Linked DNA regions of Homo sapiens. The protein of the gene in region 1 interacts with the protein of each later gene in a biochemical or structural test. Each region holds a gene or a part of one and is shown in the gene's direction. Other genes may lie near its edges. The genes, in order: MAP3K4, RAC1 and MAPK8.

Region 1 (3,655 bases):
AGCATGTAGATTCCAAAGAAACATGAGAAGGCAGGAATGAAGATGGTGAACTAGAGAGCGGTTCCAGTTCAGGGGGCCATGGGCAGTGGTGTGCTGGAGCTGCTTCTCCCGGCTTGAGAGAGCTGATCATGCACATCTCTTCCCATTTCATTGCTCAGGGACATCATACTGCTGCCTTGAAATTAGCTATGATGGGAGTATTTACACCACAGAAATCGGCATGCATTACATAAGATAGTAATTTAGGGTCACCCAGTTGTTAAATATTTCCCAGATCACACTGTATAGATTTCTTTTTAGATTACGAGCCAGGAGTTAAGAACTTAACCTTAAACTCCAAGAAATGATCATAATGAAATGTTAAGAAAATTGAGCTTCCTATTATTTGAAGGTTATTAAATGTGCCCTGCTTACATTGAAAGGATATGAATATTTTCTACAAAACTGTCAGGAGCAGGCTTCTGAATGTTTTGACTACATCTTCAATAATAGTTTGTTCCCATTTAAAAAATCCTCAGTCTTTATTTATTACTGTGATTTGGAATTTGCTTCATCTTTATTGTTAAATCCCTCTTGCACCTCTGGAATATTCCCTAATGTGTTCTAACTGGACTTGAATCCACTTGGCAGGAGGTCTGTTATAGAGATCAGTCGAGCCCTGAAGGAGCTCTTCCATGAAGCCAGAGAAAGGGCTTCCAAAGCACTTGGATTTGCTAAAATGTTGAGAAAGGTGAGCTTGCAATCCTGATTAATTAGTACCTTTTTTCTTGTTTTTCTTTTATCTTATTTTTTTAATGCTAACCGTAAAGAAGTTTCTTTGTAACTGTGATCCTAGGACCTGGAAATAGCAGCAGAATTCAGGCTTTCAGCCCCAGTTAGAGACCTCCTGGATGTTCTGAAATCAAAACAGTATGTCAAGGTAAGTACTTCAAATGTTGTGATTGAAACATTTTGCCTTTCCTTCTTTATTCTAAAACAGGCAGACTTTTTCTTGAAGGTCCAGATAGTAAATATTACAGGCTCTGAAGGCTGTACCACAACCCCAGTTGTAAGACTGTCCTGTAATTCACCAGTGGAATAATGAAACAGTCTTTTTCATACTTGACTTACTAACTTGTCTTCAGAGTGTAGATAAATAATAAAAAGTTTACTCATGCTGTTTATTAATTTAGTTACACATATTTAAAATAATGTGTATAAGGAGATAATATTCATTTTAAATTATGGTTTTGTTTTTCACCCTTATATTTCCTGATGCAGTTCAAAGGTTTTACAGTGAATCTTTGACATCAAGATCCTGGTCATCACTAGAGCCACTTTTTGAGTCAGCAACTTTACTCCACTTTAAGTTGTTGGAGATTTAGCACAGTTAGAATCCGTATGTGATGTCATCACTGGACATTTTATCCCAAGCCCACAGTTGTATCCCGCTCCCATACTGAGAGTGGGAGGGATGACCTGCAGCGTGCCACCACATGTGTACCCTTTGAGAAACTGATCTCAAGGAGCCTTCTTGTGATGAACCCCTGGCTCCCTGCCCTGGAATAATTAGAGAATCTGTATTAACAATTTTTGCCTTTTTCCCAAGCCAGGTGACTTTTTGTAAGCATCACAAACTAGCAGTGGTTGAGGTTCTTTCAGGCTGCCTTGCCTCCCCGTCGAGTATTTTCTTTGTTGTTGAAAATAAAGCAGTGAGGAGGATGTCCAATAATCGGGGAGACTCTGTAAGGCCTCTCCTCCAGTGCGTTCACAGACTCTCCTCCTCCTGCCTCCTTCAGTCACACTGAAGCCGGCTACCTGCAGTTCCCTCACTGCTCCAATTCATGCCCTTCCCACTTTCCCTTTCCCAAACCTGCCTCTCCTTTCCTAGGTTTGTTTTAAATAACCTATTTCTCTAATGTACAGTGTTCCTTAAGATTTTGGATTATGTCTTTTGCAGGTGCAAATTCCTGGGTTAGAAAACTTGCAAATGTTTGTTCCAGACACTCTTGCTGAGGAGAAGAGTATTATTTTGCAGTTACTCAATGCAGCTGCAGGAAAGGACTGTTCAAAAGATTCAGATGACGTACTCATCGATGCCTATCTGCTTCTGACCAAGCACGGTGATCGAGCCCGTGATTCAGAGGACAGCTGGGGCACCTGGGAGGCACAGCCTGTCAAAGTCGTGCCTCAGGTGGAGACTGTTGACACCCTGAGAAGCATGCAGGTACAGCTCATCTCCATCTTTGCAGCAGTGTTACTTCAAGGACTTTTAGTAAGAATGAACTGTTAGCTGCTCATGAATGAGGGGTTTGACTACCCTAGTAATCACAAGTATATACTTCCCAAAAATATGCCTCAATGTGTTAATAGGTCATTTTGCAGCATAATTTGTACAATATATCATTCTGTTAAGTTAAATTATACTGGAATACTTGAAATAAACCATCTATCTGGTTTATATCTTTTCTTAGTTCAGTCATGTAGTTAGATCTGTGGAGCTATGATCTAAAAGGAGTTATGTCACTAATATAATTTGTAGTTCTAGAAATCCCAGTTCTCCAAGTACTCAGGTTTACTGGTTATTTAATTTTAATTTTTTGTAGTGAAGGCTATCCCCTCCCTACCTAACAGGGACCTCGTGACAGTTTCTATAACTCATTAGTTATAAACTATGAGAAGCTTTCTCATTTATCTGTGTTCAGCTTAGGAACAGTCATGGTGAGTGTTCATATGCACCTTGAGCTCAGCCTCACCAGAACTGAGTATACACTGGCCTGCTGTATCCCTCACCCCAACAACTCTGCTTTTATATTCCGTCTCAGTGAATGGTTCCGCGTTCACTCACATGTTTAAACCAGAAGTGTGACAGCTAATATAAATTCAGCCTCCCATCTTTCCAGTTAATACCTTGCCCTGGAAAGCCAGAAGCATTTCCAGTAAATGATCCTTTCCCTGCATCCCCAGAGCAGCTGCTGTAGTCAGCACTTTACCATCCCTCTCCTGAACTATTGCAGTTTCTGACTTTGAGTTTCCCTGCTTCAAACCTCACCTTCTGTCTCTCCAATTCTGTGTTTGTTTTTGTGCTTCTAGAATGATCATTATAATACATCTGATTGCATCACAGATCTACTTAAAATACTGCAAAGATTCTTCATCTCTTAAGAACAAAAGTAATAAAGTCTTGATTTCTTAATGTTTTATATAAGGCCCCTCATCTTATTTCTGTCTTATTCCTACATTTTCCTTCTTCATATGCTGCTCCAATACACACACACATGCACACATACACACACACACTCACACACACTCTGCACTGGCAGTACTGAACTACTTGAAGTTCTAGGATATCTCAAAGATGTCATGCCTGCAGTCCCAAAGGGTTCTTCTCCGTGGTGCTGAATATCCCAGCTGTCAATGCCCACTGAAGCGTGTTGCTGTGTAGGAGAAGCTTTGCTTAAAAATGACTTTCTGATTAGATGGTTGTTGGCCTGGTATCCCTGAGATTGGCATTGTTTTTGGACTGGTGTTGAACTAGAATAACAACTAGTAACTGGGTTGGTTTTTATGTCCTGTGCTTGATTTTCCTCCCAGGTGGATAATCTTTTACTAGTTGTCATGCAGTCTGCGCATCTCACAATTCAGAGAAAAGCTTTCCAGCAGTCCATTGAGGGAC
Region 2 (3,125 bases), on another chromosome or scaffold:
GGCATTTGTCATCGAAGATATGTTAGAATCTATTGTATGCTTTTGGATCTCTCCGGAGGGTTAAGACAAAATTCTAATAAAGAATCGATAAGAGGTTATATTGATTTTTGTTGTCCTCAGTCTGTACTAAACTCAAACCAAGTTCTCATGCATTACTAGGTTGGAGAAACGTACGGTAAGGATATAACCTCCCGGGGCAAAGACAAGCCGATTGCCGTATGTAAAACTTTCAGTCCACTTCAGTTTCAAGCTTTCTCTGTTCTCTCATTTCACTTCGTTTTCCTAGGATTTTTTATTAAGCCTCAAGCTCCTTGAGTGTTTTATATTTAATTCACTCAAGGTTGGGGTTTTGCTTGATGAAATAAACTTCATTAGAGTGTGATAGTTTACCCACCGGCTTGAATTAAAGCAGTTTGTGAACTGTGATCTTCTCCTCCCAAGTGAAAGGAGGGGACAGTGAGAGGGCCCCTCTCCTGGCTGGTTGGAGATGCAGATATGGAGACTCCTCCCGGAAGCCCACCTGGCTGTGAGCCGAGCCGGAGCAGGACTAACCTTGTTGCCGGGGCCTTCTTTCTCCGCTTGGGTGTCCCGTGTGGTGGGGCTGTCTGGGCGTGGCTGTGCAGTGCTGCTGAGCTAACCCCACCGTGCTTGAGATGGTGTGCTGGGTGCCGCGGTGATTCTTGGACGAGCTTGTGCATGCGCCAGCATTCTTCAAATGCCAGTTATAAAAAGCTGTTGTGTGGGATGTTTCTTTCCCTTTCAGGTACAAGGTATCAGCTGGAGGGTTGAAAGTGTAGCTTGGGAATTGTGTGCATTTCATAAAGTAGCATAATTGCCTTTTTCCAGGAGAATATTTTAGAAATCTAGCATTTTAGAATTCTTGGGCATTTTTAAATACAGGTGAATATTTGAATTTGGTTTGACACAAAATACAGAATGGATGAAGCATGCAGATGTTTGGCGTGTGCCCCGAAGCACCCTCTACTCTGTCCTCTGCACCCACCCTTTGCGCCTCTGCGTCAGCCACAGCTGCCCCGGGAGCGAGTTCTCCTGAGGCCCTGGCTGTGCTGACTCTAGGGCAGCGTGAGGGTGGTTGTCAGCTGTGAAGGTGCCACTTACACACTAAGTCCTCCTTCCTTGTGGAGGGAAGGGCTCAAGTAGCAAATATTGGAGCCCCCGCTTGGTGCTGGGAGCTGTGACAGGCAGCTCCTGAAGAAGCAGTTTAATTGGAACCAGTGACCATCTAAAACTGTTTGTACTCTAAACCAGATTTTACAGAAATATTGGAATCATACCTTTATACTTGATTTTTTCATTTTAGATAGTTAGGCGTAAAGGAAGCCTCCTGAGGGTCTGGTCTGATCCTCCTGATCCTTGAAGAGCTTCCAGCATCATTCTCCCTTCATGCTCCCCATTTTCATAAGTAACTGGTGGCTTGACATGCTGGGTTTGGTTTGGGAGCCCTCTGACAAACTGAAAGGGTGGATCAGGAAGCGTCTGACCACACCACTGGTAGACACGCTCTGCGTCCAACAAGTCCTTCCCAGCAACATGTAGAAAGCAAAGTGCATGCTTCATTCTAAGGTTGTTGTCTAAATGTTTCCCTGTGTTTCCTTTTTGTAGGATGTGTTCTTAATTTGCTTTTCCCTTGTGAGTCCTGCATCATTTGAAAATGTCCGTGCAAAGGTAGGTGGGGATTTAAAATGTGTATGTAAGTTATAGAATGATCCTCTCAGAAATAAATACTTTAAAATATCACTTAGCCTAGGAATTTTTAGTTATTTAAATTGGTTTTAGCAATTTGCTACTTAAGTACATGATTGGGTTTTTTTTTTTCTTTTGAGACGGAGGTCTCACTCTGTTGTGTCCAGGCTGGAGTTGTAGTGGTGACATCAGAGCTCACTGTAGCCTTGAACTCCTGGGCTCAAACAGTTCTCCTGCCCCAGCCTCCTGAGTTGCTGGGACCATAAATGTGCACCACCATGCGTGGCTAATCTTAAAAGAATTTTTGTATGGCTGGTTTTGTAGACCCTGGCTTGTCTCAAACTCCTGGGTTGAAGTGATCTTTCAGCTTCAGCCTCCCAAAGTGGTGGGATTATAGCTGTGAGCCACTGCATCTGGCCCATCAGCAGTTTATTTTATTTATTTATTTTTGAGAGAGTCTTTTTTTTTGTTTTTGTTTTTGTTTTTGAGATGGAGTTTCACTCTTGTTGCCCAGGCTGGAGTGCAGTGACGCAATCTTGGCTCACTGCAACTTCCGCCTCCTGGGTTCAAGTGATTCTCATGCCTCAGCCTCCCGAGTAACTGGGATTACAGGCATGCACCACCACGCCCGGCTAATTTTGTATTTTTAGTAGAAATGTGGTTTCTCCACGTCAGTCAGGCTGGTCTCGAACTCCCGACCTCAGGTGATCCGCGCGTCTCGGCCTCCCAAAGTGCTGGGATTACAGGCGTGGGCCACCGTGCCCGGCTGAGACAGAATCTTGCACTGTCATCCAAGCTGGAGTGCAGTGGCACAATCTTGGGTCACTGCAACCTCCCCCTCCCGGTTCAAGCAATTCTCCTGCCTCAGCCTCCTTAGTAGCTGGGATTACAGGTGCCCGCCAACACACCTGGCTAATTTTTGTACTTTTAGTAGAGACGGGGTTTCACCATGTTTGCCAGGCTGGTCTCGAACCCCTGGCCTCAAGTGATCCACCCGCCGCAGACTCCCAGAGTGCTGGGATTTCAGGTGTGAGCCACTATGCCCGGCCTAATACGTGGATTTTTAAAGCTTCAGGTTCTGGTTCAGAAGTTTCCTGGGTCTCATTAAAATAATGAGGCACTCAGAATTGGTCTAATAAAAATAACGACCATTTCTTTCTACTCCAGTCTCTTTCACAAACTTCTTAGTGAAAATGACAAGTGAGGCCCTTCAGTAGGGGCATTTTCAGTGGAGATAATAGCGGCAGACCTGAGACCTTGGGCTAGGTAGTTTATTCTCATTTCTGAACAGATGATGAATTTTCTCAGATGACCCTAAGAAATTGTTTTACCAAAAACAAAGTGATCTATTTGCTTTGGGAGGAACTCCCTTCCTTTTGTTTCTCTTCCCTTCCCCCCTTCCCCTGCGGTTGTAGAGCCCG
Region 3 (3,655 bases), on another chromosome or scaffold:
AACATTTCTGTAAAAAATACAGACATAGGCCAGGCGCGGTGGCTCACGCCTGTAATCTGAGCACTTTGGGAGGCCGAGGCGGGCGGATCACCTGAGGTCAGGAGTTTGAGACCAGCTTGGCCAACATAGTGATACCCCGTCTATACTAAAAATACAAAAATTAGCTGGGCGTGGTAGCGTACGCCTGTAATCCCAGCTACTTGGGAGGTTGAGGCAGGAGAATCTCTTGAATCTAGGAGGCGGAGGTTGCAGTGAGCTGAGATCGTGCCACTACACTCCAGCCTGGGCGGCAGAGGTGTAGACTCTGTCTCAAAAAACAACAACAACAACAACACCCAGAAATAATCAAAGACATTAATATTTTTATAAAAGCATAACAAATACAAGTAGGGTGAATAAAGATTATAAAATCTTATGCTACGTCTCGTCAGGTTTTACCACCAAATACGTTTGTACTAAACTTATTTTAAAAACGTATTTTTCACAGCTTTATGGATTTTGGCTTTGCCAATGAAGGATAGGTGTCATACATATATACAGTACTGTATAGCCTCTGCTCTGCTCCCTCCCTTTTTATTTAATGTAAGTTGTTGCATGCAATATGTATCACCTTTTGCTTTTTTGTTTTTTGCTTGTTGGTTTGTTTTTTGAGACGGAGTCTCACTCTTGTTGCCCAGGCTGGAGTGCAGTGGCACAATCTCAGCTCACTGCCACCTCTGCCTCCGAGGTTCAGGTGATTCTCCTGCCTCAGCCTCCTGAGTAGCTGGGATTACAGGTGATCCACCTGCCTTGGCCTCCAAAGTGCTGGGATTACGGGTGTGAGCCACCGCACGTGGCCTGCTTTTTGTTTTAATATAGCTGAGAGATTATTTTATATCAGTCATATCAGTATGTAAATGGCATGCTTTTTTAACATCTTTGTGGTATTCCATTTGTCTTACTCTGTTTGGGCTGCTATATCAAAATACCATAACTTGAGTGGTTTAAACAACAGAAATTTATTTCTCACAGTTCTGGAGGTCGGGAAGTTCAAGATTAGGCTACTTAGTCAATTTGGTTCCCTGGTGAGGGTCCTTTTCCTGGCTTTATAGGTGGCCGGCTTCTGGATGTATCCTCACATGGCCCCTAAGAGCTCTAGTCTGTTCCTCATCCTATCATGGGGGCTCCACCCTCATGACCTAATATAGTCATGAGAGGCTTAGTTAACTCCTAAAGGTCTCTCCTCCAGATACTATCAAGTTAGAGGGTAGGCCTTCAACATATGAATTTGGAGGGACACAGACAGTCCATAACATCATTATACTGGTATACCATTTAACTCCTTTCTGATGCATATTTAGGTAGTTTTCAGACTTTTGCTATCAAAAGCCATGGTGCAGTGGATTACCTTGTGCATACGTCGTGTTGCACTTAAATGCATAGGATAAATTTCCAGAGGTAGAGTTCCTAGGCCAGCGTATGTGCATTTGTAATTTTATGTATTGCTGAAGTGTAGCCTGTAGAGGTTGTCCAACTTCCATTCCACCAGCACTGTGTAAGGATGCCTGCTTCTTATTACCCTTAGACGTCTTTCATCTTTTAAGGGCTGTTTGTGTTTTCTTTCTTTTGAACTGTCCTTGTCTTTGCATGTTTTTCTATTGCTTTGTTGCTCATTTTCCTAGATTTGTAGGATTAATTTTACAAATTGGCTCCATGCTATTTTTTGGAAATGTTTTTCCCCAATTTGCTGTTTTCCATTCTATGGTAGGCTATTATGTATGGTTCCAACTTTATTTTCTTCACCAGATATCCATCCATTTGTCCCTACACCATTTATTAAATAATCCATCTTTGTCTTAACTGATTTAAAATGCCACCTTTACCATTTACAAAATTTCCACGTGTATTTGGTACCATTGTTTCCATTGACCCATCTGCCTGTTTGGGACCTGAGCCATCCTGTTTTTATTATTGTAGTTTATGCTGTGTTTTCTGCTAGGTCTAATTCCCTTTTATTTCTCTTCCTTTTCAGAAGTTTTTTTCTGGCTTCTATCTTGTTTATTTTATATGAACTTCTAAAAACAACCCATCTAGTCTAGTCTGTACCCCTCCTCTGCCAGTCTTTCTGTTGGAATCACTTTTTTTATTTTATTGTGGTAAAATTATGCACAGCTAGATGCACAAGCATTACAGTCCAATAAGTTTGCCTTTGTATACACTTGTGCAATCCCAGATCAAAATACAGAACACTTCCATCACCCAGAACCTTTTCTTACATCCTTTTCAAGTTACCTTGCTCCCCAGTGATTGGCTTCTATTAAATGGATTCAGTGTACTGTTAGGATTTCTTTGTATTTATAGAATAAGTGACAGCTTTATGATGTACCTTTATATCCAAGAATAGGAAAAACAACCTTTTCATTTGTTGAAGTCTCATTTTGAGTTCCTGATAGCATTTTTAAACATTAAAATTTTTTTTTGCTGTTTTATATATTTAAGTTTTTTTTTTTTTGCTGGAAATGGCATCTTTTTTTCCACTTTTATCTTCTATCTGGTTATATATAAGAAAGCTTTTTATTTTGTATATTAGTTAATATTTCATATATTAAATAATAAGCCCCCTGTAGAATATTTATTATTTCTAATAGTTTTGTAGTTGAATTTTTTATTTTTCTTATGTCATGCCAGCTTTTTTGTTTCCTTTGATTTTTACCTCCTCCCTCCCCCAACTTTTTATACTCTTATATTTTTTCTTATTGCATTTATAGTGGTGATTTTAGAAGATTATAGTTTTCCTCCATTATATGTAAAATGAGCCAAAATATCTGTTTATCTGTTGAGTATTTAAATGTTATGAATAATAATGAAATTAGGGAGGGATTATGGGAATACTTAAAGTAGTGTGAAGTTTTCTCTCTAAAGTTAATGTAACTTGAAATGAATTGTGGTTTTCAAAATGTTAAATGGACAAGTTGGGGATCACTTGATAGTGAATGTAGGATTAGCAGTTAACTGCCTTGTGTCTTATTTGATGATACAGTCATGCACCACATGGTGAGGTTTCGGTCCATTACAGACCACATATGTGACAGTGGTCCCATAAAATTATACCATATTTTTACTCTATTTTTTCTATGTTTAGATACACAAATACTTCCCATTGTGTTACAGTTGCCTGCAGTATTCAGTACAGTAACCTGCTGTACAGGTTCGTAGCCTAGGGTCAGTAGGCTACACCATATTATAGCTTAGGTATGTTGTACTATCTAGGTTGGTGTAAGTAGATTCCATGATGTTTGCACAGTGACGAAATTGCCTAATGATGCATTTCTCAGAAGGTATCCCCGTCCTTAAGCAAGGTGTGACTATGTGTATAGGCTGCTTTCTATGTGCTTAGCACCCAGAGGCAGCTCCCGGAAATATAATTTAGTCTGGTGTCAGAGAGCATGCAGTCAAAGTAGAGGTCAAGATATGAGAAGTATGAAGTGAATGAATGTAGACAGGAGGGTCTTAAGCTTGGAAAAATGCAAAAATCAAGTCAGGAAAGCACAGGAGTGAGAGGGTGCAAAGAGTGAGTTTGATTTGGCAACTGGATTGGGGCAGGTTGCTCATCCTTATAAAATTATATGGTAGTTAGGTACTTAGCTGAACTTCAGTAGAGATCTCATTGCTTAAT

What was found.
Region 2: the proteins of MAP3K4 (region 1) and RAC1 form a complex in vitro, tested with the Homo sapiens proteins (one study listed by BioGRID).
Region 3: of the proteins of MAP3K4 (region 1) and MAPK8, one has a biochemical effect on the other in vitro, tested with the Homo sapiens proteins (one study listed by BioGRID).

Annotation. Positions count from the first base shown.
Region 1 is NC_000006.12:161,085,749-161,089,403, forward strand, and holds part of MAP3K4 (mitogen-activated protein kinase kinase kinase 4), read left to right. Parts: intron 1-630; coding exon 631-730; intron 731-835; coding exon 836-919; intron 920-1,939; coding exon 1,940-2,206; intron 2,207-3,573; coding exon 3,574-3,655. UniProt on the Homo sapiens protein: Component of a protein kinase signal transduction cascade. Activates the CSBP2, P38 and JNK MAPK pathways, but not the ERK pathway. Specifically phosphorylates and activates MAP2K4 and MAP2K6.
Region 2 is NC_000007.14:6,398,503-6,401,627, forward strand, and holds part of RAC1 (ras-related C3 botulinum toxin substrate 1), read left to right. Parts: intron 1-159; coding exon of another isoform or gene 160-216; intron 217-1,623; coding exon 1,624-1,686; intron 1,687-3,125. UniProt on the Homo sapiens protein: Plasma membrane-associated small GTPase which cycles between active GTP-bound and inactive GDP-bound states.
Region 3 is NC_000010.11:48,313,124-48,316,778, forward strand, and holds part of MAPK8 (mitogen-activated protein kinase 8), read left to right. Parts: intron 1-3,655. UniProt on the Homo sapiens protein: Serine/threonine-protein kinase involved in various processes such as cell proliferation, differentiation, migration, transformation and programmed cell death.